Regions from separate parts of the Homo sapiens genome. Here region 1 is linked to region 2. The links come from fine-mapping of genetic effects on gene expression. A gene starts in region 2. The other region holds a variant in brackets. All regions are shown on one strand. Distances are from middle to middle.

The links. PIP is the estimated chance that this variant, and not a neighbour inherited with it, causes the effect.
Region 1: its variant is fine-mapped to the expression of CLIP3 in whole blood (INTERVAL, PIP above 0.99).

What each region holds. Positions count from the first base shown.
Region 1 is chr19:36,101,721-36,115,854 of GRCh38, reverse strand. WDR62 (WD repeat domain 62) reads right to left here. Exons shown (of 32, transcript NM_001083961.2): 25 at 14,081-14,134; 26 at 13,704-13,841; 27 at 13,004-13,118; 28 at 12,781-12,907; 29 at 12,648-12,699; 30 at 11,874-12,512; 31 at 11,180-11,337; 32 at 10,747-11,087. The coding sequence ends at 10,827. It overlaps OVOL3 (ovo like zinc finger 3), which reads right to left and starts at 4,712. Exons shown (of 4, transcript NM_001302757.2): 1 at 4,559-4,712; 2 at 4,422-4,486; 3 at 2,891-3,095; 4 at 2,144-2,402. The coding sequence starts at 4,652. The coding sequence ends at 2,194. POLR2I (RNA polymerase II subunit I) reads left to right here and starts at 980. Exons shown (of 6, transcript NM_006233.5): 1 at 980-1,057; 2 at 1,142-1,196; 3 at 1,443-1,516; 4 at 1,604-1,678; 5 at 1,789-1,840; 6 at 2,038-2,146. The coding sequence starts at 999. The coding sequence ends at 2,100. TBCB (tubulin folding cofactor B) reads right to left here and starts at 387. Exons shown (of 6, transcript NM_001281.3): 1 at 181-387. The coding sequence starts at 294. RefSeq lists a silencer at 57-146 and enhancers at 1,337-1,466, 1,485-1,996, 3,853-4,482, 4,483-5,113. The variant A/C (reference allele first, on the strand shown) is at 10,674.
Region 2 is chr19:36,025,631-36,040,935 of GRCh38, reverse strand. It overlaps CLIP3 (CAP-Gly domain containing linker protein 3), which reads left to right and starts at 8,063. Exons shown (of 14, transcript NM_015526.3): 1 at 8,063-8,212; 2 at 8,521-8,744; 3 at 13,665-13,804; 4 at 13,891-13,984; 5 at 14,189-14,350; 6 at 14,671-14,789. The coding sequence starts at 8,579. It overlaps THAP8 (THAP domain containing 8), which reads left to right. Exons shown (of 4, transcript NM_152658.3): 2 at 800-992; 3 at 1,218-1,613; 4 at 5,344-5,952. The coding sequence ends at 5,496. The region is part of intron 3 of LOC101927572 (a long non-coding RNA gene); the gene reads right to left. RefSeq lists a silencer at 5,164-5,337.

The DNA.
Region 1 (14,134 bases), 76 kb before region 2:
ATCTCTGCACTCTCGAGTTCTCTCCGGACCCGCCCCGCCGCGACCGGGTCCCCAGCCTCCGCAGCCTGGGATCACCTCCGGGCCCGCCCAGTCACTCCCCGGCCCCTCCCAGCCTCCCCCTTCCGGGAACCCCCCAATTTCTTCGCCCCGCCCCTCCGGACCCCGCCCCCATGGCCACACCTTGAACTCAGCGATGGTGAGGCTGCGGCTGTATCGCTTCTCGGAGCGGAAGGTGTTGAGGGAGCTGCTGATGAAAACGGTCACCGTGGGTGCCGACACCCCCGTCACCTCCATCTTGCCGCGCCCTGCGGATGCCTGCAGCGCGGTCCAGCCGCCTCACACCCGCTCCGCAGCCGCCGCCGCCGCTGCTGCTGCTGGGCTATCAGCCCCGCCTCCTGCTCCGTGCCTGACCAATCCGCGCTCTCCTGCCAGGAGCGTCCGCCAATCGCCGCCGTCCCTTCCCCACCGCCAGGAAGAGGGCTCTCCTTACTCTTGGGCCAGCCCAGCCAATCCAGAGGGGCCTTCCATAGTTCACGGTTCTTCCAATAGCGGCCCGGGAAAGGACCAGAACAGGCGGCGAAGACTGAAGCCCGGAGGTAGGAGTGGCAAGAGCTCGCCCAGTCCGCGAAGGGTAAACTCGCGCATGCGCACTGGCCTTCAACCAAGCCAAGCGCCTTGGCTTCTGTCCTGGATGCTCAGTGTTTTGCGGTTTACGATGCGCATCGTTTTCCCGGCTCTGGCACCAGATCCATACTATTCTGTAAACTGAGGCGGCGATGCCCAAAAATTGGAAGCAATTACTCTAAGATATCAAAAGATTGAAGCAAGCCATGAAACCTCTGCGCGGAGAGAGCCGAGCCCGAGGCGGCGGGGAGCCAGCACGTGTGCGCAGCTCCGCCCTCTTTTGGCGAAGCACCTAGGCCTGGCCCCTCCCGCGACCTGTAGCGCGGCGGAGCAAGCGCGGAAGGCTGGGAGGGCTGCGCGGGCTGCGCGTCGCCATGGAGCCCGACGGGACTTACGAGCCGGGCTTCGTGGGTATTCGCTTCTGCCAGGAATGGTGAGGCGGAGGGAGCGGGTGATGTTAGAAGGCGGGCGAGGAATGGCTCCAGAACTAACCCCTGGCACCTCCCCCTCCCCACAGTAACAACATGCTGTACCCCAAGGAAGACAAGGAGAACCGCATTCTGCTCTACGCGGTGAGCGCCGGGGTCTTCCCCGGCAGGTCCACCTGTTCCCAGCGTGGCCCCGCCCTGCCCCCTGCCTCTGTGATCGGACTCCCTGTTCGCCCTCCGCTGCACCTCAAGTGATCCTGACTCTCATGTCCTGCCCATCCCCAAAGAGAGTCCTGTCGTCATATCCTCCGGGATCACCCTGCCCTCTCCTCCCAATCTTGTCTGGAATCCTTCCGTGACCCCCTTTCCCCCACACTCGCCCTCTCGTAGTGCCGGAACTGTGATTACCAGCAGGAGGCCGACAACAGCTGCATCTATGTCAACAAGATCACGCACGAAGTGGAGTGAGTGGCGGGCCCTGAGCTGGGGGCGGGGGTGTTGGCTCTGGAGGCTGGGTCTGAGCGTAATTTTGCACCCCCGCGTCCCTGCAGCGAACTGACCCAGATTATCGCCGACGTGTCCCAGGACCCCACGTTGCCGCGGACCGAGGACCACCCGTGCCAAAAGTGAGCGTTCAGCTGGTACTGGGGAGGTAAAGTGAGGCTCGTCTCCTCACTGGGCGAAGGGAGGAGGGAAGGGTGTGAAGCCTCCGGTGACCGAGCCCCTACCCTCTCAGGTGCGGCCACAAGGAGGCTGTGTTCTTCCAGTCACACAGTGCGCGGGCCGAGGTAAGTGGCGCGAGGGCTTTCTAAGTATCTGGGGCTTGTTTGGTCCTTTCTGGGGGCGGGGATATCAATGTGGGTGACCCTGCGCTTCTTGGAACTCTGCCGGGCCCTTACCTATTGGTGAAGTTCTCTTGCCTGTTCTTTTGGGGTAAGGCGCTGCTGGGTCCAAATCCTTCCTAACCATGCATCATTTCTGCCAGGACGCCATGCGCCTTTACTACGTGTGCACAGCCCCACACTGCGGCCACCGCTGGACCGAGTGACCTCCTCTCTCCCCCGAGTGTAATAAACACCAGATTCCATGCGTGAGTTTTCTGTGTTTATTTGCCTCGTGGGGAGGACGCTGGCACACCGTATCAGGCTGCGCGGTGCAGGGCGCGGTGCTGTGCGTAGGTGTCGGGCCGGGAGCTGGTGAAGCCGCAGTCCTCGCACACGTGCAGCTTCTCGCGGCGCTCACGGTAAGCGTAGCTGGCCGGCTGTCCATGCACCTTAGCAAGGTGAGCTTCCAGGGAGCAGCGCTGCGTAAACGCTTTCCCGCAAGCACTGCAGCGGAAGGGCCGGATCCCTGCACAGATGGGCGCAGAGGGGAGGGCTGGACAGAGAGGGCAATGGGCTCTGGACTAAAGCGCCCCCACCCTGCTTTCCAGTGTTGAGCATTTCTGGTACCTATTCCAAGCTCTTCAGACTCTTCCGCCCATGACCCACCATCTGCTACCGTCACCCAGTGCAGACATGGGCCAGACACCTGTGTCTCCACTCTCCCTCACCAGGATGCTCCCTCCCCTGGGGGATGGAGAGGGAGGCCTTCCCTTGCCTTTCGATCTGGAGCCTGAATCGTATAACCGGCATCCGTCTGCACTCTGCATTCCGTGACAGGCCCCTATTTTGGTGCCACCTTACACCCACCCACTGGGGTCCGAGAGACATCATGTCTTGATTCTCCATACCCCACATACACAAACCATGGACACTCCACAGCCCAGCACCTCTCTCCATTTCCTTCCATCCCCACCTGGGGCCCAGCAACTTTTCCCTGTCCCTGCCACTGCTCACCAGTGTGAGTCCTCATGTGGCGCTTGAGATCGAAGGCGTCATGAAAGCCCTTGCCACAACAGCGGCACAGGTGGCGGCGCACGGGGCTGTGGCACTTGAGGTGCCTTGTCAGCATGCGCTGCAGAGGGAAGGCCTTAGGGCAGAGCGGGCAGCCCAGCGTCCCAGGGCCCCTGGGAGCAGAGGTCAGGTTGCCCTGTGTGGGCTGCTGGAGGGATGCAGGAGTTATTAGCCTCTCTGGCTGGACCCCATCCACCCTTTGTTACTCTGCAAATGAGTATTTACAGAGTGTCCTGAGCCACCACGGAGGATTAGGAAGGCAGGTGGGAGACAGTGATTAGTGTGTGTGCCTGTCACTCTCCAGGGCCTTCCCTCACTATCCCATGGTCCTTACTTTCTCTATGCCAAGTCCCATCTTCTGATGTGACATACACATTTTTTTTTTTTAAAGACAGAGTCTTGCTCTGTCGCCCAGGCAGGAGTGAAGTGGTATGATGTCAGGTCACTGCAACCTCCGCCTCCCGGGTTCAAGCGATTCTAGTGCCTCAGCCTCCCCACGATTACACGATTGTAGGCATGCGCCACATGCCCAGTTAATTTTTTTATTTTTTGTAGAGATGGGGTTTCACCATGTTGGCCAGGCTGGTCTTGAATTCCTGACCTCAAGCAATCCACCCACCTTGGCCTCACAAAGTGCTGGGATTACAGGCATGAGCCACTATGCCCGGTCTATTTTTCTAATTTTATTGTTTTTTTTGAGGGGGGATGGAGTCTAGATCTGTTTCCCAGGCTGGAGTGCAGTGGCGCAGACTCGGCTCACTGCATCCTCTGCCCTGCCTCCTAGGTTCAACTGATTCTCCTGCCTCAGCCTCCTGAGGAGCTGGGATTACAGGCACGTGCCACCATGTCTGGCTAATGTTTGTAATTTTAGTAGAGACAAGGTTTCAACATGTTGGCCAGCCTGGTCTCGAACTCATGACCTCAAGTGATTCACCCGCCTCGGCCTCCCAAAGTGCTGGAATTACAGGCTGACTAATTTTATTGTCTATACATGCAGCCCCAACCAGAATATAAGCTCCATAAAATTGTGGATTTTTGTCTTATTCCCGCTGAATATAACAGCCCATGCCTAGAACAGTGCCTTGCTTTCATGAATATATTACATTCCGGCTGGCGCTTTCCTTCCTCCAATGCATGCACAGCTGAAAAAGCCCTTATCTCCCATCGCACTCCTGTTGCCTTGTCCCATGTTCTGACATAAAGCGGATCATCCACATGTGGGGATGAATCTTGTGCCCCGCTGGAAGAGATCCCTGTGGCTGCCGGCCCTGGTGCCTGGGGTGAGACCTAACAGTAGAGAGCTCACTACTAGGAAAGGAGAGGCATTCCCAACACAGAGAAGTAGGGGCGGACAGGTCCCGAGGCTGGAGGGCGTGTGCAGATGGGTCGGGGGAGCAAGGGGCTGTCAGCTTCATTAAGGCTGAGAGCAGGCAGGAGCGAAACAGCTGGCTTTGCTAGCCAGTTACACACTCACCGCTGTCCACGGATCCCTGACACTGGACGACTGTTGTGCCGGTGGCCCCCCCAGGCTGCTGCAGTCTGAGGAGAAAAGCCAGATGGTGACACTGCGTCTCTCCTGCCCCTTACCTCCAGGCACAGTGAGGGGCCCACCTGGGATATAGGCATCTCCCCGGAGCTGGTCAGGCAGATGGCCCCAGTTGGGGGGCTGTGGACGCCGACTCCTGACCAGGAAGGCGCGGGGCATGCCCTCCGGAAGGCTCTCCACACACAGGGGCTGCTTCCACCTGCTGTCAGACCTCAGCCCCAGGATGACTATCCCTGGTGGGAAAGGAGGGGAAGCCTCTGAGGAACCTCATTCTCTTCATGCAAATTTCCTGGCTGGCCCTGGGAGTGGACTAAGCTGGCTCAGGTTACCCCTGCCTGGGGACCTGCCCATCTTCTCCCAGGTTTTGGAGGGAACCATCCAGCCTCCAGGGGTGGACAAGCACTAGGACCACCAAGCAGAGCCAGGCAAGGGGAGATGGGCCTGGGGAGCTTTTGAGGATAGGAAGAAGAAACAAGGCCCCAGGGGGACTGTCTCCCAGGGGTTGAGGGTCTGTTTGCCAGGCAAATCAGTCACCAGGGGACATCCAGCAGCCTGCCTGGTTATTCAAATCACAGCAGCTGTCTGAGGACACTGAAGGGGCCCCCTGCTGTGATTGCCCTGCTCTGTAGGGTGCAGGGAGGACAGCAGATCTGGATAAATCAGGGCAAAATGAGGATCCAGGCTGTGCATCCTCAGGTAGGATGCCCCACCTCTCTGATCTTCAGATTCCCAGGGCTAACATTCAGCCAGAAGCACTGTTCAGGTGTAGCAGGCACTAAAATACTAGTTTGTTAATAATCTAGCCCCTAGTTACTGCCTGGGACAACACTCTTCCTCCCTCCCACAGTCTGGAAAGTAAAAGGGGGTCTCCTATTTTTTTTTCTTTTTTTGAGACGGAGTTTCACTCTTGTTGCCCAGGCTGGAGTGCAGTGGCACCATCTTGGCTCACTGGAACCTCCACCTCCCGGGTTCAAACGATTCTCCTGCCTCAGCCTCCTGAGTAGCTGGGACTACAGGCATGCACCACCACACCGGGCTAATTTTTGTATTTTTGGTAGAGACAGAGTTTCACCATGTTGGCCAGGCTAGTCTTGAACTCCTGACGTCAAGTGATCCGCCTGCCTTGGCCTCCCAAAGTGCTGGGATTACAGGCATGAGCCACCGCACCTGGCCCAAAGGGGGTCTCTTGACACAGCCAGGGGCTCCCAGGACCCTACCCCGGCACACTGGCCAAGCTGTTTTACACTTGATTCTTAGCCAGAAGACTAAGAAGCAATCCAAGCTCTGTTTTTTAATTTTTTTTTTTTGAGGCGGAGTTTTGCTCGTTGCCCAGGCTGGAGTGCAATGGCGTGATCTTGGCTCCTCTATGACCTCCGCCTCCTGGGTTCAAGTGAGTCTCCTGCCTCAGCCTTCCAAGTAGCTGGGATTACAGGGGCACACCACTGCACCCAGCTGATTTTTTGTGTTTTTTGTAGAGATGGGGTTTCACCATGTTGGCCAGGCTGGTCTCAAACTCCTAAATGCAGGTGATCCGCCCGGCTCAGCCTCCCAAAGTGCTGGGATTACAGGCGTGAGCCACCGCGCCCAACCTGTTTTTATTTTTTTTGTTTTGTTTTGTTTTGTTTTTTGAGACAGATTCTCACTCTGTTGCCCAGGCTGGAGTGCAGTGGTACGATCTCCACACACTGCAGCCTCCGTCTCCTGGGTTCAAGCGATTCTGCTGCCTCAGTCCCCCAAGTAGCTGGGACTACAGGTGCGCACCACCACACCCGGCTAATTTTTGTATTTTTAGTAGAGATAGGGTTTCACCATGTTGGGCAGGCTGGTCTCAAACTCCTGACCTCGAGTGATCCACCTGCCTCAACCTCCCAAAGTGCTGGGATTACAGGCGTGAGCCATTGCGCCTGGCAACTAAACAATTTTCTAAGCTCCAGACCTAGCTTACTGAAAATGATCGCGTAAGTCCATGAAGGAGGCACACCAGTGACAGCCCAGAATGACCAAGACAGTGAGAGGCAAGTGAGGCAGAGACCCAGCCATGATGGGGAAAAGAGGGGTACCTGGGGACCCGAACAGGCTCCTGATCCAGGCTACGGGTACAGGGATGGCTTCCTGGATAAGCGCTGAAAGGTTTCAGATGAAAGGGGAGGGTGTTCTAGTCAGAGGGGGACATCTGTACAAGGCTTGCTGGTGAGAGGAGTATTTCTTCATTTCTTTACATTGCCCGAGAGTCAGTTGTGCCAATTCATTTGGGGAAGCAAGGGTGGCAGTGCTGAGGGTCTGCTGGCCATGCATTTCCGCTTGCTCTCTGCAGGACCCAGAGCAAGTCATTTCTCATTGGGCCTCGGTTTCTTCACCTGGAAAATGAGACTAAGGAATCTCCCTCTTCCCAGTTTGTATTGAAGATCCATGTAGCTCACATGGAGAGAATGCTTAGCATGGGGCCTGGCATGTGGCAGACATATAAGCAGGGATTGGTTAGGAAGGTTTTTTTTTTTTTTTTTTTTTGAGACAGGGCCTTGCTTTGTCACCTAGGCTGGAGTGCAGTGGAGTGAACACAGCTCACTGTAGCCTCAAGCTCCTGGGCTCAAGTGATCCTCCCACATCAACCTCCCAAGTAGCTGGGACTACAGGCGTGCACCACCACACCTAGCTAATTTTAAAATTTTTTGTAGAGGTGGAGTCTTGCTATGTTGCCTAGGGCTGGTTTTGAACTCCTGAGCTCAAACCGTCTGCCTGCCTTGGCCTCCCAAAGTGTTGGGATTACAGGAATGAGCCACTGCATCCTGCCGAGGAATCCCTCCTCTGGGCAAACATCCAGGCCTCAGGTGGGTCATCTGCAAAATGGGGTTTCAGGTGGTGTCTCCATTTTGCAATTGTTGGCTTTCCTGCAGCCCTGACTGGGATGCCTGGCACGGGCCTGGCAGCTCAGGACCCAGGAGCTGTCCTGATGGTACTGCTATGGGGAGGCCAAGGGTAGATGTGGGGGTAGAAGCAGGGGGGGAGTTGCAGTGAAAGATGAACTGTTTTCCTTCCAGGGACCCAGTTCCCCAGGAACCCTCTCAGTCCTGTTCTGCCCTGCTCCATGGCCTAGGAGGTTGACTGGAGGCGGGGTCACCTGGGCTTCTATGCACTCTGGCTTCCAGTAGGATTTGGACAATGGGGTGCCCTGCAGGAGGGGAGTAAGGTCAGGGTGTTGATTCTCACTCCGTCCTGTGTGGGAGTCAGGGCTGCAGCTCCCTCAGCACTACCCTCTCCCTGGGATTTGCTCTTTTGGGTTCTTGTTCCTTCTCTTTGTGCCTTGTGGCCTGGGGGTGGTAACAGCTCCCAGGGTGCCAGTCCTGGGGTTCTGCACCAGCCTCGGTGGTTTCCCAGTCCCTGCTGCTCCTTTGCAAATGATCCCTTGGTTAAACTCTTTGGAATATCCCATCTAAGCATGCTGTCATCTTTCTGCTGGGACCCTGTCAGCTCACAAACCACATGCACACATGCTGCACCACCAGCAGTGGCTTCTTAACCAGGTGGTTTATCCTGGTTAAGAAGTATGGAGAAAGTATGGTCCTTCCAGGACAGAGCCTGGCATTTGGAAGAGGGAAGTGGCAGACATGCTGGATCCTCTCTGATTACCAGCCCACTTGCCTTTCTTATTGAGAGAACCTCTTTGTTTGAGCTGCAACATGCCCAGGACAGGAGAGATGGTCCAAGCACATCAAAGCAATCTCCATTCCTGTTGCCTGGGACTCATCTGACCCCAGATGAGTCTCCCAGGGAGACCCCTGGGAGAGATCTGCATCTTTTCTGCTGCCCTAGAGGGTGCCCTGCTCTGTGCCTTTGCTCCTGGTTGGACCAGGCCACCCAGCAGCTGGGACCAATAACTTGGGCCTCTGACCCTCATGTCATTGTGCACCTGGCCTCTTCCTCTCCTGCTGTCACCCTCTGTGAGCCCCCTGCACTCCACATCTAACCTCAGCCTCCCCATAGCAGTACTATCGGGGCAGCTTCTAGCTCCTGCGCTTCCAGGCTTATGCCAGGCACTTCAGTCAGGGCTGCAGGAAAGCCAACAATTGCAAAATGGAGACACCACCTGAGGGTGTGCTGCTGGGTGCCACAGCAGCCGTGTTGCAACCATGAGGCCATAAGCTGGAGACTGAAGCTTGCTCACAGAGGATAACAGAGCAGGAGAGGAAGAGGCCAGGTGCATGATGACATCAAGGGTAACCAACGTCCCTCCATCTTGGGCCCTGAAAGCCAGGTGTTTACTCCTTGGAGCAGAAGACTTTACTATGATACAGGTTGGAAGGAAGGGTAATTCCATGCATGACAGAGGCCCAAGGTGGTCTCCTGGGTGTCCGAGGCCTGGGGGGCTGAACACCAAGCTTTGCCCAGGGATGTTGGGCAAGGTTTTGGGCAATGGTGGCCGAACTAGGCAGATGGGCCTAGGCCTAGGCAGGTGGTTCAAGTTCTGGACCACCTGGACTCCCTGAGGCAGAGTCGTGAGAAATAAGCAACACTGGATATCCCCCAAACATTAAGAGCAGAGATTTAGAAACAAACCCAAAAACAAAAAACTGTTCTGGATATTCCTTGGACTTAAATGTTATGAAGCAACAAGGCCCTGCTCCTCCTTGCACCTCAGCTCCTGCCCTCCCCTTGCTCACTCCATTCCAGCCGTCCGGGCTTCGCTCCTCTTGCTTCCACACAGATCACGTGTGGCTGCCCCAGGCCTGTGCACTGGCTGTGCTGTCGGCCTGGATGTGTTCCTGAGATGTCCTCTATCAAGCTTCAGCCCAAATGTCACCTCGAAAGGCCTTCCCTGACCCTTCACCAGCAATGGATCTCCCCAACCTATCTAGAATTATACAGAGCTCTAATTCCTGCATCTGTTTGACTGTATAGAAGGTGAGTGGCCATGAGGGCAGGTGCGTTGCCTGATGTTCCTTCTGCTACAGTGCCCGGCACCTGGGTGGGAACTGGCAGGATTTTTTTTTTTTTTTTTTTTGAGACTTGCTGTGTCACCCAGGCTGAAGTACAATGATGGTGTGATCTCAGCTCACTGAAACCTCTGCCTCCTGGGTTTGAGCGATTCTCCTGCCTCAACCTCCTGAGTAGCTGGGACTACAGGTGTGCACCACCACACCCCAGCCAAGAGTGGCTTTTTTAGCAGACACCCCATGTGGCCAGATGCCTGCTGTCTGGGGGAGCTGGTAGCAGTGCTGGGAGCTCGTGGAATGTAGAACTTCTGAAGGGGAAGCAGTTATTGGTCCCAGCTGCTCGTGGCCTGGGCCTGCTGCCAGGATCATACAGTGGGCAAGCCTGCCTGGGTTTCTTGTTTTATTTTGTTTTATTTAAAGAGACGGGGTTTTGGCCAGGTGCGGTGGCTCATGCCTGTAATCCCAGCACTTTGGGAGGCCGAGGTGGGCGGATCTCCCAAGGTCAGGAGTTTGAGACCAGCCTGGCCAACATGGCAAAACCCCGTCTCTACTAAAAATACAAAAATCAGCTGAGTATGGTGGTGGGTGCCTGTAATCCCAGCTACTCGGGAGGCTGAGGCAGGAGAATCGCTTGAACCCGGGAGGCGGAGGTTGCAGTGAGCCAAGATCGCACCACTGCACTCTAGCCTGGATGACACAGCAAGATTCCATCTCAAAAACAAAAATAAATAAATAAATACATGAAATAAAGAGATGGGGTTTCACCAAGTTGCCCAGGCTGGTCTCAAACTCCTGGCCTCAAGCGATCCTCCCACCTCAGCCTCCTGAGTAGCCGGGATTATAGGTGCAGGCCACCATACCCAGCTTGGGCAAGCCTGTTCATGGGTCCTCAGTTTCCCCTGTTGCAGATGGGGACACCACCACCGTGGACTTTGTGGGATCTAGTGTGGCCTTGGCCCAGAGGCCCTGAGCCATGATATGGCAAAGCGTGGACTGCTGGGCAAGGTAGGCACATGGTGATCACAGCAGCCCCAGTGAGTTCTCAGGCACTGGCAGGGGGCAGGTAAGAGGGTCTGGCTCCTCCCTGGGGCACAAATGGGCCCCACTGGGTAAGCACCTCACACTGGTCTGTGGCAGCTCTGTGGGCAGTGTGGGAGGACTGGCCCTGAGGTCATGGCTGCAGTTCCTGAACTTCTTGGGAGCGCTGGTCCCATGCTCTCCACTGACAGACACGAGTCCTCTGGGCATC[A/C]CCTTCTACCCTCCCTCCCCACTTCCACTTGAAGAGGGCTTTGTGGATAGGCCCAAACAGACACCAGGAACCATTCCTCAAAGCTGTCAGTTTATTCGCTTAAAATACCTAAGTCCTCAGAAGCAGCAGGGCTGCGGTGGAGGGGCTGCGCCCTCAGTGCCCCCGTGCCTTCCTCCGCACGGCCTGCACCAGCAGCTCCGAGTAGTGTTCCAGCAGGGCCTGCAGGTCTGGGCTGGCCAGGGGGTACAGCGTCGGTGGGGACGGGGGTCCTGGGCTGGGCAGAGCCTGGGCTGGGGCCACACTAGTCCCCACCAGGCATTCAGCCTCCAGCTGGCTGTGGATCCACAGGAAGGTGGAGACCAGCTCAGTCCGTGCCTGCTGCTGCCCGGTGTCCACCTGGCCACTGGAGACCAACTGCAAGGGATGCCAGCCTTGTCAGGGGCCACCAAGGCCGGGCGGTCTCAAGAGACCCCTCAACCCTTTCCCAACTCTGGGGCTTAGCTCACCACACGGTAAAGGTCGAGGGCTTCTTGGAAGGTGGTCTGCAGCCTGTGCAAGATGTTCCCCACCCTGCTCAGCTCAAGGGGAGATGGGGGCAGGGCTTCAACCGGCACCCAGGGCTCACTCCAGCGGGCAGGGCTGCCCTGTAACAGACCAAGTGCACCTGGGGTAGAGAGAAGGGAATGAGCAAGATGAGCTGCATTCCATTGGTGTGAGCGGCCAGAGCGACTGGGTGGACTCCATGCTGTACTTCTGTCTGGAACACTTCTCTGGGTCCCCAAGGCTCCCTCCCCTTCACTCCTACAGGTCTCTGCTCCAATGCAGCCTCCTCCCTGAAGCCTCTTCTTATCTTCTGGTTTGTAATCCCAACCCCTGTCCCCACCCTGCACTCCCTCGCCCTCCTCTGTCCCTCCTAAGCATGTGTCACTTCGTGATACATATGACGGGTTCCTTAAAGGTTTAGTCTGGGCATTGTCCCCATTGAAGCTGTCAGTTCTCTGTGTTGTTTACCACCATGTCCCATGTCCCAGGGTTTAGCACAAAGCCCAACATGTAATGCTCATTAAATATTTAAGTTAATGCACGAATGAATGAATGGCACAGTCCCTGTGGCCAGGTCAAGTATCCATCTTTGGAGCTGAGCCAACTAGCACACAGGATGAGCTTAGGGGACAGTCCTTGCTCCAGGGCTGTACTCACCGGAGGTGGGCTCCAGGAGGGAGGCAGTGCCGCCAGGGATGCCAGGCCGGGCCTCTGGAAGCTGGGGGTTACTGGGGTGGGCAGGAAGGCCAGGGGACTCAGGAGCTGGGAGACTTGGGCGAAAGGCAGAGCCGTGGAGCCTCAGGGCGCTCTCTTCCACAGGGCTAGGGGCTGGGAAGCTCACTGCAGGGACGGTGACGCCAGGCTGGGTATCCACGGGGGGCTGCAGGAGCCCATCACAGGCACTTGACAGGGTCAGTCTCAGGTTGGCCCGGGCCTCGTGGTTGCCCCAGGAACGCAGGGCAGGCTCTTGGCCCTCACTGTCCAAACTGGGTGTTGTCGCGGTGGTGATGGCCTGAAGCTCCTGGCCCAAGGAGGCCAGCTCCCCAACGGACGATGGCCTACGGAGGGGCTGGGCCAGTGTGGCCACGATAGGGCCCTCACTGTCACCGAGGGAGATGCTGCGTGATATCCTGGCACGGGAGCTGGCAGTGGCCTCCATGTAGGAACAGGTGGAGGGGGCATGGACACCCTGAGCCAGGCCTGGGGTGGGTGCAGATGTGGGCGTTGGGAGATTCCTGTCTGTGGGCAGCACGGAGGAAGCAGGGACACAGGACGCCAGGCTCGTAAGGCAGGGAGCTGTAACGGAAGCAGATGGCACTGACTCCACCACACAGAACTGATGGCTAGGGCCCCCACGCCCCACAGCTAGGCTGGACATCCGGCCACTCGCCGAGAAACCCAGGACTGTCCGTCTGGGACTGGGGCACTCACGTGGTGGGCGCCAGGCCTCCAGGGTCTCTTCAGCCTTCCCTGCAGCGAGGACCTGCAGGCACAGCTCTGAGGTGAGGACAAGGCCTCAGGGTTCCCAGCCCCGTGCCCTGACGGAGGTGGGCCCAATACTCACGTGGGTCCTGTCTGGGGAGGCGTAGCCAGTACCTGCTCTGGGCTGGCTTCCGCCTCGGTCCATGAGCTTGACCTCTGGAGACTTCACAAGGCACTGGGTTGCCCGGGGAGGGAAGGTATGGGTGAACCTGTGGGGAGGAGAGCAGGGGGGATGATTCTCATTCAGCCTGCCCTGGGGCACTGTTGAGGAGCCAGAGGGTGGGCAGTGCTTGGCCAGCTTCTACCTGGATGCCTTCTGGAGGCTTGAGAGGAACTGCGTGGAGATACTCAGGCGTGGGTTGAAGAAGTGGTCTTCAGCTTCAGAGGCCTCCACGTCTCCCAGAGCTGCGGGGAAGAGCTCTAGGGGAAGATCCCGAGGGGACCCTCATAACCCTTCCCGCCGAGCAGCCCTGGCCCTAGGCCAGCCCACAGCCCAGCGGGGCACTCCCCAGAAACCCTTATGTACAGACACAGGGTACGAGCAGGGGCAGTGGGTGAGGAGGCATCGTGAGGCTCAGGTCAAGAGTGAAGCAGTGGGCCGGGCACGGTGGCTCACGCCTGTAATCCCAGCACTTTGGGAGGCCAAGGCGGGCAGATCATCTGAGGCAGGAGTTTGAGACCAGTCTGGCCAACATGGTGAAACCTCATCTCTACTAAAAATACAAAAAATTAGCAGGGCGTGGTTGTGGATGCCTATAATCCCAGCTACTCAGGAGGCTGAGGCAGGAGAATTGCTTGAACCAGGGAGTCGGAGGTTGCAGTGAGCCAAGATTGGGCCACCGCACTCCAGCCTGGCAACAGAGCGAGACTCCGTCTCAAAAAAAACGAAGCAGTTGCTCTCCACTCACCCTCCTGGCCCTGCTGGGGAGCCAACTCCAGGGACGCCAATGCTGTGCCCAGGCTGCACAGACGGCCTCGGCAGGTGTGGGTGAGGCAGGGCCCTACCTCTGCAGGGGGACTCAGTCAGTGTCTCAAAGTGGTGGCGGAGGAACTTCTCCTGCTCCGGAGTCTGGGGTAGGGAGCTGCTGGGGACGCTGGGTCCCTCGGGCAGGGACAGCTCATCTTCTGTGGGACCTGCGCATCCTGACAGGGAAGGAGGGGAGGGACAAGAGGAGCCAACACCATGAGTCACAGCAGACGCCACCTGAAATGGAGAAAGCGGGCCCCACCCATCCCTGCCCTGTTGCCCGCAGGCTGAGAAGCAGGGATCCCCGTCTTCCAGGCTCAGTGGGCTCCAAGTGCAGGGCCTGTGCTTAGACATTGTGACTGGCCCTAAGCCAGGCCCGAGCAGCGAGTCCCCTGCGTGTCTGGCCCCTGCTTACCTGGGAAATGGGGCAGCGACGTGGCAAACCGAGGGGCAGGGTCAGGAGGCGGAG
Region 2 (15,305 bases):
AGGTCCACATCCTGCGTTTGTGCTGATGTTTCTTAAATCTCTCTTAATCCAGAAACCCCACACCCCCATTTATATGGTGTGGAAGAAACGTTTTCGCTTGGCTGCACGATCTCCCACATCGTAACTGTCTGATTTTATAAACTGCTCCAACAAGTTGATGTGGAAGAACAAATTGGGAGTGGAGGGGCGGGACTGTGGGCAGGAAGACCAGGAAGGAGGCTGGAAGGAGGGGCAGTGGAGGGGGCAGAGGTGGGCTGATGCTGGGTGTTTAAAAGGTGGAGCTTTCAAATTAATAATAATAAGAAGAAATGCCAGGCTTGGTGGCTCATGCCTATAATCCTAGCACTTTGGGAGGCCAAGGTGGGTGGATCACCTGAGGTCAGGAGTTCAAGACCAGCCTGGCCAACATGGTGCAACCTCGTCTCTACTAAAAATACAAAAATTAGCCGGGCGTGGTGGCGTGCGCCTGTAGTCCCAGCTACTCAGGAGGCTGAAGCAGAAGAATCGTTTGAACCCAGGAGGCGGAGGTTGTAGTGAGCCAAGATCGCGCCATTGCACTCCAGCCTGGGTGACAAGTGCGAAACCCCGTCTCACAAAATACTACTACTAAAAGATGAAGCTGAAAAAAGGGTTGTGGTTGTGTGTATGAGATAGAGAAAGCCTGGGCACAAGACAGGTCTACTTCCTAGCCCTAGGGAGGCACAGGCTTGGAGCCCAGAGACCTCCAGGGTGGGTATCCTCTGGGAGGGATAAGTCTGAACCTCGTAGCACTGACCCAGCCCCCCAACCACCCATGCAGGTTCCCACTGAAGGATGGTCCCCGGCTGCAGGCCTGGCTGCAGCACATGGGCTGTGAGCACTGGGTGCCCAGCTGCCACCAGCACTTGTGCAGCGAGCACTTCACACCCTCCTGCTTCCAGTGGCGCTGGGGTGTGCGCTACCTGCGGCCTGATGCAGTGCCCTCCATCTTCTCCCGGGGACCACCTGCCAAGGTGAGCGCTGGGAGGTCCTGCTGCTGGAATCCAACCCCCAGACCTCCCTGCCTAAGGGAAGTCCCTCCTTGAGTCTGAACTTTGGCCCTCCCCTCCTGACGACACTTCCTCCCTGAGGTCTGGCCTTACCTAGGCAAGTCCCCCTTGGAAACAGACCCTCCATCCCTTTCCTCCTGAGTCGAAGTCTGACCACGGCACCCCTGCACCCCATGCCTTGTCTTCCAGAGTCAGCGGAGGACCCGAAGCACCCAGAAGCCAGTCTCGCCGCCGCCTCCCCTACAGAAGAATACACCCCTGCCCCAGAGCCCTGCCATCCCAGTCTCTGGCCCAGTGCGCCTAGTGGTGCTGGGCCCCACATCGGGGAGCCCCAAGACTGTGGCCACCATGCTCCTGACCCCCCTGGCCCCTGCGCCAACTCCTGAGCGGTCACAACCTGAAGTCCCTGCCCAACAGGCCCAGACCGGGCTGGGCCCAGTGCTGGGAGCACTGCAACGCCGGGTGCGGAGGCTGCAACGGTGCCAGGAGCGGCACCAGGCGCAGCTGCAGGCCCTGGAACGGCTGGCACAGCAGCTACACGGGGAGAGCCTGCTGGCACGGGCACGCCGGGGTCTGCAGCGCCTGGTGAGTGGCACCCCAGCCTGGCAGCCCCATCCATGGGTGGTGGCCTGGCCTGCAGTGTGTTTTCATTTTGTCTAGGATCCCCTATTCAAAAATCAGAACATTCAGCCGTGTTTCCAAATTTCTGGCTTTCCCGGGCTCAGTGGCTCACGCCTGTAATCCCAACACTTTGGGAGGCCAAGGCAGGAGGATTGCTGGAGGCCAGGAGTTCGAGACCAGCCTGGGCAACATAGCAAGCACTGTCTCTACAGAAAATTAAAACAAATTTCTAGGTTTTCCTGAAAAACAAAATCTGGCAATGCCAAGCAACTATTGGTTGGAGCTGAGTAATGATTGCTCCATTTACTAATACTAAATACTTAATATTTGAGAAGCTCTTATTGTCTGCCAGACACAGAGTTATAACATAGTGAGCTGAAAACTCACTATGACCCTTTGAGCTGGAGCTACAGGGTTAATTTTTTTTTTTTTTTTTGAGACGGAGTCTCGCTCTGTTGCCCAGGCTGGAGTGCAGTAGTGCAATCTCGGCTCACTGCAGCCTCTGCCTCCCAGGTTCAAGCGATTGTCCTGCCTCAGCCTCCCAAGTAGCTGGGACTACAGGTGCCCGCCACCACGCTCAGCTAATTTTTTGTATTTTTAGTACAGACAGGGTTTCACCGTGTTAGCCAGGATGGTCTCGATCTCCTCACCTCGTGATCCACCTGCCTTGGCGTCCCAAAATGCTGGTATTACAGGAGTGAGCCACCATGCCTGACTGCTACAAGGTTAATTTTTAAAAAATGCAGTGGCTCACATCTGTAATCCTAGCACTTTGGGAGGCCAAGGTGGGCAGATCGCTTGAACCTAGGAGTTCAAGACCAGCCTGGACAACATGGTAAGACTGTCTCACTAAAACACAAAAATTAGCATTGTGGTGGGCACATGTGGTCCCAGCTACTTGGGAGCCTGAGGCAGGAAGATCCCTTGAGCCCAGGAAGCAGAGACTGCAGTGAGCCAAGATCGCACCACTGCACTCTAGCCCGGGTGACCAAGCAAGGTCTCAAAAAAAACCAAAAACCACAACCAAACAAAAAACTCACTATGGTCTGTGTGCGGTGGCTCATGCCCGTAATCCCAGCACTTTGGGAGACCAAGGCAGGCAGATTGCTTGAGTTCGGGAGTTTGAAACCAGCCTGGGTAACATAGAGAAACCCTGTCTCTACTAAAAATACAAAAATTAGTTGGGCATGGTGGCGCACCTGTAATCCCAGCTACTTGGGAGGCTAAGGTGTGAGAATTGCTTGAACCCTGGAGGTGGAGGTTGCAGTAAGCCGAGATGGCACCACTGCACTCAAGCCTGGGCAACAGAGCGAGACGCCATCTCAAAAACAAAAACAAAAACAAAAAAAGGCCGGGTGTGGTGGCTCATGCCTATAACCTCAGCACTTTGGGAGGCTGAGGTGGGCAGATCACGAGGTCAGGAGTTCGAGACCAGCCTGGCCAACATGGTGAAACTCCATCTCTACTAAACATACAAAAAGTAGCCGGACGTGGTGGCACACGTCTGTAATCCCAGCTACTCGGGAGGCTGAGGGAGGAAAATTGCTTGAACCTGGGAAGCAGAGGTTGCAGTGAGCCGAGATTGTGCCATTGCACTCCAGCGTAGGCGACAAGAGCAACACTCCATCTCAAAAAACAAACAAAAAAAACCTCATTATAATCTTAATACTGCTGTTGTCTCTATCTTCCAGATGAAAAAATGGAGGCACAGAGCAGTCCAGTAGTGTGCCCACAGTCAGGCAGCCAACATGTTTCAGGGCCAGGATTCAAACCCAGGTGTCTGGCTGCAGAAGAGGCCTGTGAGAGCTTCCTGCCTGGCCCCTATAGAGCTGGAGTTTGCAATCTCTGTAATAGTGTCCCCCAGGCCCTATCTGAATCCCTTTTGCCTCTATATTTTACTGCTGGGTGTGTGTGTGTGTGTGTGTGTGTGTGTGTGTGTGTGTAGGGGAGGAATTTGAGGAAGGTGTTTGTGTGTGTGTGTGTGTGTAGGGGAGGAAGCTGAGGAAGGTGTGTGTGTGTGTGTGTGTGTGTGTGTGTGTGTGTAGGGGAGGAAGTTGAGGAAGGGTGTTATGTCTCTGTGTGTGGGGTGGCGGGGGAGGAAGATGAGGAATGGTGTTATGTCTCTGAAAATCACAGTTTGACCAAGGCGAAATTTCTCCTGTCTTAAAACCCTAGGGCCAAGCTTGAGGTGCCCAGCTTAGCCCCCATGGCTTTCAGAGCCCTGCTTGTATGAGAGAGATGCCCACACAGAGCTCTGAATGCTAGACTCACTGAAGGGGCTCAGGAAGGAGCCCCCACAGTACCTCTGGAGTTAAGGAGTATCCGATTTTTTTTTTTTTTTTTTTTGAGAAGGAGTCTTGCTCTGTTGCCCAGGCTGGAGTGGAGTGGTGCGATCTCAGCTCACTGCAACCTCTGCCTCTCTGGTTCAAGCGATTCTCCTGTCTCAGCCTCCCAAGTAGCTGGGATTACAGGCACGTGCCACCATGCCCAGCTAAGTTTTGTGTTTGTAGTAGAGACGGGGTTTTGCCATGTTGGCCAGGCTGGTCTTGAGCTCCTGACCTCAGGTAATCAGCCCACCTCGGCCTCCTATAGTGCTGGGATTACAGGTATGAGCCACCATGCCCAGCCAGGAGTCTCAGATTGATAGTCAGTGGTTTGGACATGACCCACAGATACAATTTGTTTGGCCTCCGCAGTGCTTTAAAATAATTTATAATGGCCGAGTGCAGTGGCTCACACCTGTAATCCCAGCACTTTGGGAGGCTGAAGCAGGTAGATGACTTGAGCCCAGGAGTTTGAGACCAGACTGGGCAACATGGTGAAACCCTGTCTCTACAAGAAACACAAAAAATTAGCCAAGTGTTGCACCTATAGTTCTAGCTATTTGAGAGGCTGAAGTGGGAGTATTGCTTGAGTCCAGAAGGTCAAGGCTTTAATGAACTGTGATTGTGCTACTGCACTCCAGCCTGGGTGACACTGTGAGACTCTGTCTCAAAAAAAAAAAAAAAAAAAAAGTCTGGTCTTTCCTGAAGGCTCTGCATATCTAGCAGCACTGGGCTTGGATTCTCAGGTGATAGCAGTTGGCTGGAGCTACAGTGTGGCTGCCTCTGGGGCCTTGAAGTTTGAGACTGTGGCCTGGGGCACAGAGGGACAGTGGGGCAGGGACAGAGCTCAGACTCGGGCCTGGGGCTCTTTGTGGAGCCTGCCAGATCCCCTGAGCTGACTGCCTCTCTCTGCCTCCCCTCCTGTCATTCAATCTCTGTCTCCTACTCATCTATCCCTACCTCCCAATCTCCTCCCTCCCCAACATTCATTGTCTTTCTGCCCATCATCTCTGTCCGCCACCTGTTTCCCCACCTCCCTGTGTCTCTCTTTATCTGCATATTTTCTGTCTCCCCCATATCTCTGACCCTGTCTGTACGTCTGTCTGCCTGCACATCTCTTTCCCCCACGTGTCTGCGTCTGTGCCCCCGCACTTCTCTTCCCATTTCCCCACCCTTCTTTCCTTTCCCATGAATGTCTCTCTGGCCCTCACATCTGCTTTCCTGTCTCCTCATATCTCTCCCCACATCTCTCTCTGTTTCCTGACACGCCCTCCTGCCACCTTTGCCTCCCTGTTCCTCACCGTTATCTGTCTGTCTCTCCCGCAACTTGCTTCGTAATGTTCCCCATCTCTACCACTTCTTTGCCTTAGACAACAGCCCAGACCCTTGGACCTGAGGAATCCCAAACCTTCACCATCATCTGTGGAGGGCCTGACATAGCCATGGTCCTTGCCCAGGACCCTGCACCTGCCACAGTGGATGCCAAGCCGGAGCTCCTGGACACTCGGATCCCCAGTGCATAAGGATCAAGACAGACAATGTCGAGGGACAAAAGATAGAAGATGGAGGAGGAAAGACATTATACGTGGGCTTGGCCCAGCCCCACCGCCCACGCCTGGGTAGTAGCAGTGCCTCCCTCAAGGGCCTGGGTTCTACCACCCCACTCCTAGGGATCTCTTGAACCTTAGGGGTGACCTGGGCCCAAGTCTCTCATCAGCCCCCAATCCCCTGGGTACCAGGCTTCTGCCACCCCCGGCTCAGATCTTTGCAAATCAGTACGACAGCCTCAGAGCAGAGCAAGGGTTGTTTGGGAGAATCATACCTGGTTCTAAGGAGTCCCACGCTTTTTGCCAAGCCTGGTACTGAGTTCATGATACCATGGTGGACACAGCTGAGAAAATCCCTGCCCTCATGGTGCTCATTCTACTTGAGTAGACGATGAACTAGTAAACAAATAAACAAGAACACTGCAGACATGAGCGATGAGTGCTATAAAGACAACAAAAATTTGGTTTGGGCCTGGGGGAGGGCCCTCCAAGGCCATGTTTTAGCAGAAACCTGGGTGATCAGAAGGGGCTGGCCTGGAGCGCTACAGGCTCAGGTTCCAGAGGACGAACAACCCCTGCAGTGAGGGCCTGCTGTCTGGGATGTGTCAGGTCTGGGAGGCGGTGTTGCTATGGAGAAAACCATAGTAGGGAAGGGAGGAAGGGGTGCAGTTTTAGAGCAGAGAAGGTGAAAAGACACCAACAAGTAAGATCCTAAAACAGGGCAGAGAGGGAGCCACGTAGGGATTTGGAGGAAGAGCATTCCGGGCATCACAAAGAGCCGTTGCAGGCCAGGCACGGTGGCTCACGCCTGTCGTCCCAGCACTTTGGGAAGCTGAGGCAGGCAGATAACCTAAGGTCAGGAGTTTGAGACCAGCCTGGCCAACATGGCGAAACCCCGTCCCTACTAAAAATACAAAAATTAGCTGGGTGTGGTGGCACAGGCCTGTAATCCCAGCTACTCGGGAGGCTGAGGCAGGAGAATCACTTGAACCTGGAAGACAGAGGTTGCAGTGAGCAGAGATCATGCCACTCCACTCCAGCCTGGGGAACAGTGAGACTGCCATCTCAAAAAAAAAAAAAAAAAAGAGCCAGTGCAAAGGTCCTGGGGTAGGGAGAAGCAAGGAGGCCAGTGTGGCTGGGGTGGAGTGAACAAAAGAGGGTGAGAGGAGGTGAGTGCAGAGATGATGGGGCAGGTTCACATAGGCCCTTGTGGGCCATGGCTGAGAGCCTTGGCTTCTACCTGGAGTGAGGTGCAGCAGGCAGACCCCTCTGAGGGAAAGAGGGCTCCAAAGTGACAGGTGTTCATGGGTCCCTGTGGCTGCATGTTGGAGGAGGACGGGGACAGCAGGTAAGAGGCTGCTGCCGTAGTGCTGGTGGCAGAAGAAGAAGGATGGACCAAGATGAGGGCCCAGGGTAGCGGTGGGGAGAGTGAGATCCTGGAAATCTTTTGGAGATGGAGCTACTGGACCTGTGCATTAGAAGGATGAGGTGTTCAAGGCTGTCACCCAGCCCCATCCAGGCTGGGATGATTTGAGGCAGAGCAGGCTACAGCTCCAGGTGGGAAGCCAAGCCATGACAATGGAGCCAGGACCCTGGGCTGGCTTCAGGAGGCCTCCGTGGGGAAGATACAGGTTCTGAGAGAGTTGGAGGGGTCAATCGGCAGATCTGTTTCCCAGACACTGCTACAGGCATGTAGCATGGTGATTAAGAATCAAAGCTGGGCATGGTGACTCGTGCCTGTAATCTCAGCGCTTTGGGTGGCAGGGGCAGGAGGATCCCTTGAGGTCAGGAGTTCAAGACCAGCCTGGGCAACATGGCAAAACCCTGTCTCAAAAAAAATTCTCCAGACATGGTGGCATGCACGTGTGGTCTCGGCTACTCGGGAGGTTGAGGTGGGAGGATGGCTTGAGCCCAGAAGTTTGACGCTGCAGTGAGCCAAGATCACAACACTGCACAGTAGCCTGGGTGACAGAGTGAGACCCTGTCTAGGAAATAATAAAAATAAAAATCAGACTTTACAGACTGTCTGGTTTCAAATGTTCGCTCCATCACCTACTCATGTACTTTTGGGCAAGCTGCTTAACCTCTGGGCCCCAGTGTGTGAGCCTCGCATTATGATGGTAAGGATGAGATGATCATGATAGGAGTCTCTAGGAAATCACCCCTCTGAGGCACCCATTATGAATGGTGAGCTTGGAGAAGGGGTCCGGTCTAGGGTCCTAGAGAGAGGGTCCCCTAGAGGGTCCCCATCGTCACCACGCCCCAAGACCACTGCCCTCACCGGCCTGGTTTGCAGGCGTGGGGGAAGGGGATGGAGAAGATCTGTGTCCGCTCTCTCAGCCCTCTCTTTTGCCGTTGTATCTGCTCATCTCGCTCCTTTCCGTAGCCATCTCTTCCTCTCCCAGTGCCCGGAGGCTCTCCCCTTTCAGTCGCCGCCTCTGGCCCCTCCATCAATGCGAGCGCCTCCCGGTCCCTCCTCCTGGTCCCTCCTCCCCCGCCGCCGGTAGGGGGGCAGCAGGCGCATGCGCAGTCGCGCCCCTCCCTCTCCGCCCCCACCCCCTGTCGGCGTCTGGGCCTCGTCCCCTTCTCTCTGTCTCCCTTGCCTCCCCCATCACGTCCCCTGACACCGACACCCCATTGCTCCCACAGTCTCCCCAGTCTCCACTTTGGTCCCCAGCGCTGTCTGCCCGAGGTAAGATGGGGAGGGGGCGGCCCGCGGAGAAGGGGAGGGGCGAAGCATCCTGAATCCCGAGATAAACAAACCCGGGGAGGGGGCAGCCGCGACTGAGGGGCCTGACGCGGGAGGAGAAGAATGGGGGGCTGGGCCTGGGGGAGGTGGCAGGCGCTGGGCGCACACACCGGGGCCCTCTATGGGTAACGGGGGTCCCTATGGTTGCCCAAGATCCAGTTGCGCGGAGGCCACCCGGGGCCCTGGAAGCTCCTAGGGGCTTGGACCCTGGAGCCTGCCGGGCACCCTCTCCAGCTGACCTCTGCCTCCAGGATTTGCCTGAAGGCTGCCCCCAACTCTGCACCCGCCCCCCGAGGGCCACCGAGGACCATGACTAAGACAGATCCTGCCCCGATGGCCCCGCCACCCCGAGGAGAGGAGGAAGAAGAGGAGGAGGAGGATGAACCCGTCCCCGAGGCCCCCAGCCCCACCCAGGAGCGCCGGCAGAAGCCTGTTGTGCACCCCTCGGCACCTGCCCCCCTCCCTAAGGACTACGGTAACCACTGTCCCCACCCTGGAATCTGGCCTGGAGCGTTGGGTGGCCGGGGAGGGTGGGCTGTGCTCTGCTGGTGGTGATGGTGGGAGAATTCTGGGGAATTTGAAGGTGGTCCAGAGGAATCTTGGCTGCAGAGCACCCCTCGTTAATTCATTCATTCACCCATTGGAGAATGGAATTGTAATACTCCTAGTCTTTGACTCATGACACATCATTCCATCATTTAGTCATTCAACAATCATTTTTTGAAAGCGGCTGTGGACCTGGCTTTATGCTAGGGGCTGGGGCCACAGCAGGGGGCAAGAGAGACCCAGTCTTTGCCCTGAGACAACTCACAGGCCTCAGTAACAGCCACACAAATAGGTATTAAACCATAATGTAATTTTTCACATTTAGGTTTATATGCAAGAAAGAAAAATATAATGTAATATAAATATGTAATTACAAGACATTATGAAAATTGTATTTACCATAAACAAGCTGCTGCAAGAGTTTTTTAAGACATTGTTTCCCTGAGGAGGTTACAGTTGAGAAGACTGGAGGGTGAGTTGGGGTTAACTAAGAGAAGGGTCAGGGGAAAGGGCTCCCAGGAGAGGTAACCGCTGGGTAAAGGATCTGAGGTAGGAGGGTATGGAGCTGAGAGGGCGGCCTCTTGGAGAAACTGAAAGTGTCTAATCATTGACCGAGCGATATTTATCGAGTGCTGCTACTCTGTGACAAGCCTTATGCTGGGTGCCGGAGATTTAATCCTAAGTGATCCAGGCATGATCCTCCCTTGCAGGAGAGAAGGAGAGACTAAACAAGTGAACAGATAAATAAATCAGAAATCAGATAAATTCAGATTGGAGCAAGTGCTATGAAAGAAAGAAAAGGTGGGCTGGGCATGGTGTCTCACGCCTGTAATCCCAGCACTTTGGGAGGCTGAGGCCAGCGGATCACCTGAGGTCAGGAGTTTGAGACCAGCCATGGCCAACATGGTGAAACCCCATCTCTACTAAAAATACAAAAATTGGCTGGGTATAGTGGCATATGTCTGTAATCCCAGCCACTCGGGAGGCTGAGGCAGTAGAATCGCTTGAACCTGGGAGGCAGAGGTTGCCCAAGATCGAGCCACTACACTCCAGCCTGAGTGACAGAGTAAGACTGTCTCAAAAAAAAAAAAAAAAAAGAAAAAAAAAAAAAAGAAAAGAAAAAAAGAAAAAAGAAAAAGAAATTAAAGGTGGAGATACGATAATGACTAGGGGGCAGCTACCTGCAGGGGTAGTCAGGGCTGCTCTTTCTGAGTAGGTAACATTTAGTTTGGGACCCAGAGCATGGGGAGGAATCAGCCATAAGAGAGCTGGAAAAAGAGTGTTCCAGGCAGACAGCAGCAAGTGCAAAGGCCCTGAGGCAGAATTGAACTTGGAACAGAAAGATCCTGGAGCTGCATTCAGGGAATGATCGAGGTTGAGGTGAGAGGTTGGCATAGGCCAGATCTGGAAGGGCCTTCAAGGCTACAGTGAGGACTTTGGTTATATTCTAAGTGGGACAGGGGAGAAGAGTGGCAAGGGGAGGGTGTTTAAGAGCAGAGGAGTGGCAGGTCTGATTTGTAGTTTGAAAGCTCCCTCTGGGTACTGGGTAGAAGGGGATGGAGTGCAGCCAGAGTTGGATGTAGGAGGGGAATTTGGAAGATATGCAGGCTGGGAATCCCCGGCAGCTGTGAGGTTCAGAAACCAGGTTCAGAGAGTCAGCGTTGCCAGGATAGAGCAAGACAGATGGCATCCATGGACATGTCACCCACTAGAGGTAGATCAGGGAGACTACAAGTTGACTTCAGTCTAATAGAAAAATAAGAAAGTTGGCTAGGCACAGTGGTTCTGGCTTATAATCCTAGCACTCTAGGAGGCCAAGGTGGGAGGATTGCTTGAGGCCAGGAGTTCGAGATCAGCCTGGGCAATGGAGCAAGACCCCATCTGTACAGAAAATTTAGAAATTAGCCAGGCATGGTGGGTACCTGTAGTCCCAGCTACTCCAGAGGCTGAGGTGGGAGGATCACTTGAGCCTGAGAATTCGATGCTGCAGTAAGCTAGGATTGCACCACTGCACTCCAGCTTGGGTGACACAGTGAGACCCTGTCTCAAAAAAAGAAAAAAGTAAAAGGAAGTTATCTGGGGCCTGAGGTCGGGGGGGTGCTGTACCTCAGAAAACTGGAAAATCTCCTTTGGAAATGCAGCTGGAGGTGGCTGGGGCCTCTGACTCAGTGGGAGGTCGGAGGGTATAGGCTGAGCCCTCCAAGCAGTCTTGCTTGTAGAGCGGGAGAGGTTTTGTCCCAGAATGTGAAGAAATCTGGAAATGTGGTCGAGGACAGGGAGAAGGCTAAGGTGGACTCCAAGAGGAAATCATGTATCTGTTAAATTTGTACATTAATTCAACAGAGATTGACTGAGCACCTACTGTGTGCCATGTGCTGTGCCTGGCCTTGGGGATAAAGGAGTGAATGAGGCAGAATAGAATCATAGCATTTAGATCCTAGTGAGGGAAGAAGAGAGGAAATGAAGGAGGGAGAAAGAGGAGTAAACATGTCAAGTAGTGATATGAGCTATGATAAAAATAAATAAATAAATAAAGGGCTGGGCATGGTGGCTCACACCTGTAATTTCAGTGCTTTGGGAAGCCAAAGTGGGAGGATCACTTGAGCCCAGGAGTTCGAGACCAGCCTGGGCAACATAGCAAAACGTTGTCACTACAAAAAAAAAAAAAATTGCTGGGCATGGTGATGTATACTGTAGTCCTAGCTACCAGGGAGGCTGAAGCAGGAGGATCACTTGAACCCAGGAGTTCAAGGCTGTAGTGAGCTATGATCATACTATTGCATTCCAACAGACCCTATTTTTTTTTTTTTTTTTGAGACGGACTCCAGGCTGGAGTGCAATGGTGCAATCTTGGCCCACTGCAACCTCTGCCTTCCGAGTTCAAGCGATTCTCCTGCCTCAGCCTCCTGAGTAGCTGGGATTACAGGCACTCACCACCACGCCCAGTTAATTTTTGTATTTTTAGTAGAGATGGAGTTTCACCATGTTGGTCAGGCTGGTCTCGAACTGCTGACCTCATGATCTGCCAGCCTTGGCCTCCCAAAGTGCTGGGATTCCAGGCGTGAGCCACCATGCCCAGCCAAGACCCTATCTCTAAAAAAAAAAAAAAAAAAAAAAAAAAAAAGAGTAGGAGATGGAGAAGGGCGGGTGCCGATTTAGACAGTGTGGTTTGGGAAGGCCTCTCTGAGGAGATGACATTTGAGCAAAGATTTATAAAGCTTTGTGAAGATGTGTGGGAAGTCTATCCTGAGTGAGAAGAACAGCAAGTGCCAAGACCCTGAGACAAGAATTTGCTTGGCACGTGGGAGGGACAGAGGGAGCCCAGTGTGGGAAATGAGGGAAGGGGAATAAGTGAGGGGAGAGGGCTGAGAACTGAGGGGCTGGATGTGCAGAGCCCTGAGGGCCGTGGGGAAGACTTTGGTCTGTACTCTGGATGGGTTGGGAGCTGGAGGAGGGTTCTAAGCCAAGAAGGGCTATGATGTGACTGCAGTTCTAAAAGGAGCATGCCGGCTGATTCCTGGAGACACCTTCTATGTGGCACTTCCCTGGGCTGTGTATAATCTGATCATTCATGTAGTCGTTCATTCACCACGCACTGAGTTCCTGCCACGTGCCAGGGCCCTGTGCTGGGTGCTGACGTCACAGAGAGCAGTACTCCTTAGAGTCGAGTGGGAAGAGACAGAAGTGCCTCTAGGCACCACCCTGGCTGGGCACAGGTTGATTCCTGCTCATGGATACATTTTATTTTATTTTCATTTTTATTTATTTATTTACTTTTTTTGAGATGGAGTCTCACTCTCTGTCACCCAGGCTGGAGTGCAGCGGCGCCATCTCAGCTCACTGCAGCCTTTGCCTCCTGAGTTCAAGTGATTCTCCTGCCTCAGCCTCCCGAGCAGCTGGGATTACCGGCGCCCACCACCACGCCTGGCTAATTTTTGTATTTTTGGTAGAGTCAGGGTTTCACCACGTTGGACCAGGCTGGTCTCGAACTCCTGACCTGAGGTGATCCGCCCGCCCCGGCCTCCAAAAGTGCTGGGATTACAGGCGTGAGCCACCGCGCACAGCCTCTATTTTTATTTTTTATATTTCCAGAGTCAGGGTCTTGCTCTGTTGCCCAGGCTGGCGTGTAGTGGCACAATCATGGCTCACTGCAGCCTTGAACTCCTGGGCTCAAGCAATCCTCCTGTCTCAATCTCCTTGAGTAGCACCAATGCGCACCACCACACCTGGCTAATTTTAAAACTTTTTGTAAAGACAGGGGTCTTGCTATGTTGCCCAGGCTGGTCTTGAACTTATGGGCTCAAGCAATCCTCCTGCCTCAGCCTCCCAACGCATTGGGATTACAGATGTGAACCACTGTGCCCAGTCATGGATACATTTGATGTGGACTGCATGGTATTTGAAACAATTGAGAGAGTTTTATTAAAAACCAGGACTTCTGGCTTTATTTATTTTTGCTCTGGAGATTCAGCCAAACTTCACTCATACTCTCACAGGGCAACAGTGGGTGAGGTCAGTAGCAGTCCCCCTGGACATGCAGACTCCAAGGTACTGCACTCTCTGTCAGGCTTTTGTTTCAGGGGGTGGAGTTTGCTGCTATATGGGAATTGCCTGATCTTCCAACTTTTCAAGACACACTGGGCATCGAGATTTTTATGTGAACCCACCTGAGTTTGAAACCTCATGCTGGCCACACAGAAAATGCCTGTGGGTTGACTGTGGCCCATGTGCCACCAGCTTGAGACCCTGCATTAGAGGCTCTAAAAGGCAAAGACCTACAGCTCCCCTACTGAGGCTGGAAGGAGGGGGTCAGTTGCGTGGGGTGACCTTGGACCTCTTGCCACCCCAGCTTTCACCTTCTTCGATCCCAATGACCCGGCGTGCCAGGAGATCCTGTTTGACCCTCAGACCACCATCCCCGAGCTGTTTGCCATTGTGCGCCAGTGGGTGCCCCAAGTCCAGCACAAGATAGACGTCATCGGCAATGAGGTGAGAACACTGGGGAAACCAGGGGGAGAGGGGATGCGGTTCCCCACATGTGTGGGTGACCCTCCCTGCTCCCCTGGTACTCACAGATTCTGCGCCGAGGCTGCCATGTGAACGATCGTGACGGGCTGACCGACATGACACTGCTCCACTATGCGTGCAAAGCTGGGGCCCACGGAGTCGGTGAGGGCCCCCTACCCCCAAGTCATAAGCCCCAAAGCCTAGGCCCCCAGACCCAACACGCTGAAAACCACCCAGAACTCAGGCCCCATCTGGAACCCGAAGCTTCGGATCCCAAAGTATAGTCCCTGAAGCCCAGGGTCCTCCCCGTGCACTGGGCCCATGCTCTGGAATGGGGGTTCCAAGCTGACCCGGCCTATCGCGCAGGGGACCCCGCGGCAGCCGTGCGCCTCTCGCAGCAGCTGCTGGCGCTGGGCGCAGATGTGACGCTGCGCAGCCGCTGGACCAACATGAACGCGCTTCACTACGCGGCCTATTTTGATGTGCCCGACCTCGTGCGTGTGCTGCTGAAGGGTGCGAGGCCGCGAGGTGAGGAGGAGAGCCCTGGCTGGGAGGGGGCAAGGACCTGGGTGAGGGACGCGGAGACCCAGGTGAGGCCAGGCTGCGAGGGGAAGGAGGACGGTGATCTGAGGAGATAGCGGGAGGTTGGAGGCGTGGGAGAGGGGGCTCAGGGACTACCACTCTAGGGAGGGTCGGGGCTGCCAAGGGAGAGGGGGGCTCCGAGGTGGGGGCGGGGCTCTGCGTCGGAGGCTCTGGGACCTGCAAGTTAAGAGATGAGCCCCGAGGTGGGAGGAGGGCTGGGGTCCCACAGGCGCTCACCCGGAACCCCTCCTCTTGCCCACTTCCAGTGGTGAACTCCACGTGCAGTGACTTCAACCACGGCTCAGCCCTGCACATCGCTGCTTCCAGCCTGTGCCTGGGCGCCGCCAAATGTTTGCTGGAGCACGGCGCCAACCCTGCGCTGAGGGTACTGCCACCCTTGCCCAGAACCCGTTACCCTCCTGCTCCCTTCCTCCCCCACTTCCCTCCAGCAGGTCTCTGCGTTTCCCGTGACTCCCCAAATACTACAAATGCCGTCTGTACATTCAGCAAATGCAATAACAGCTGAAATATGCCTAGTGTTCATTACATGTCAGGTGAAGTCTATTATAAGCCTTGTTTTACAATGGGGAAACTGAGGCAGAGATTAAGGGATCTGCCCAGGGTCATCCAGCCTATCCCATGGCAGTGCATAACAGCATTTCAAGGTCATGAGGAAAGTTGGGCTAGGCCTTCTGTGAATGAGAGGGTTGGTCCTCTCCTAAGCCCTCAATATGATCTTTGACCTCTGACCTATGCATTACCAGGCTCCATCCACAATGCTAATTACCCTGCAGCCGTCCAGGCACATGTATGTTGGGGTAACATGGCCTGTGCCCCTGAGACCCTGCCTCTCCCCATTTTCCACTGGCCCAGAGTTTGACTCCTGACTCTATACCACAGG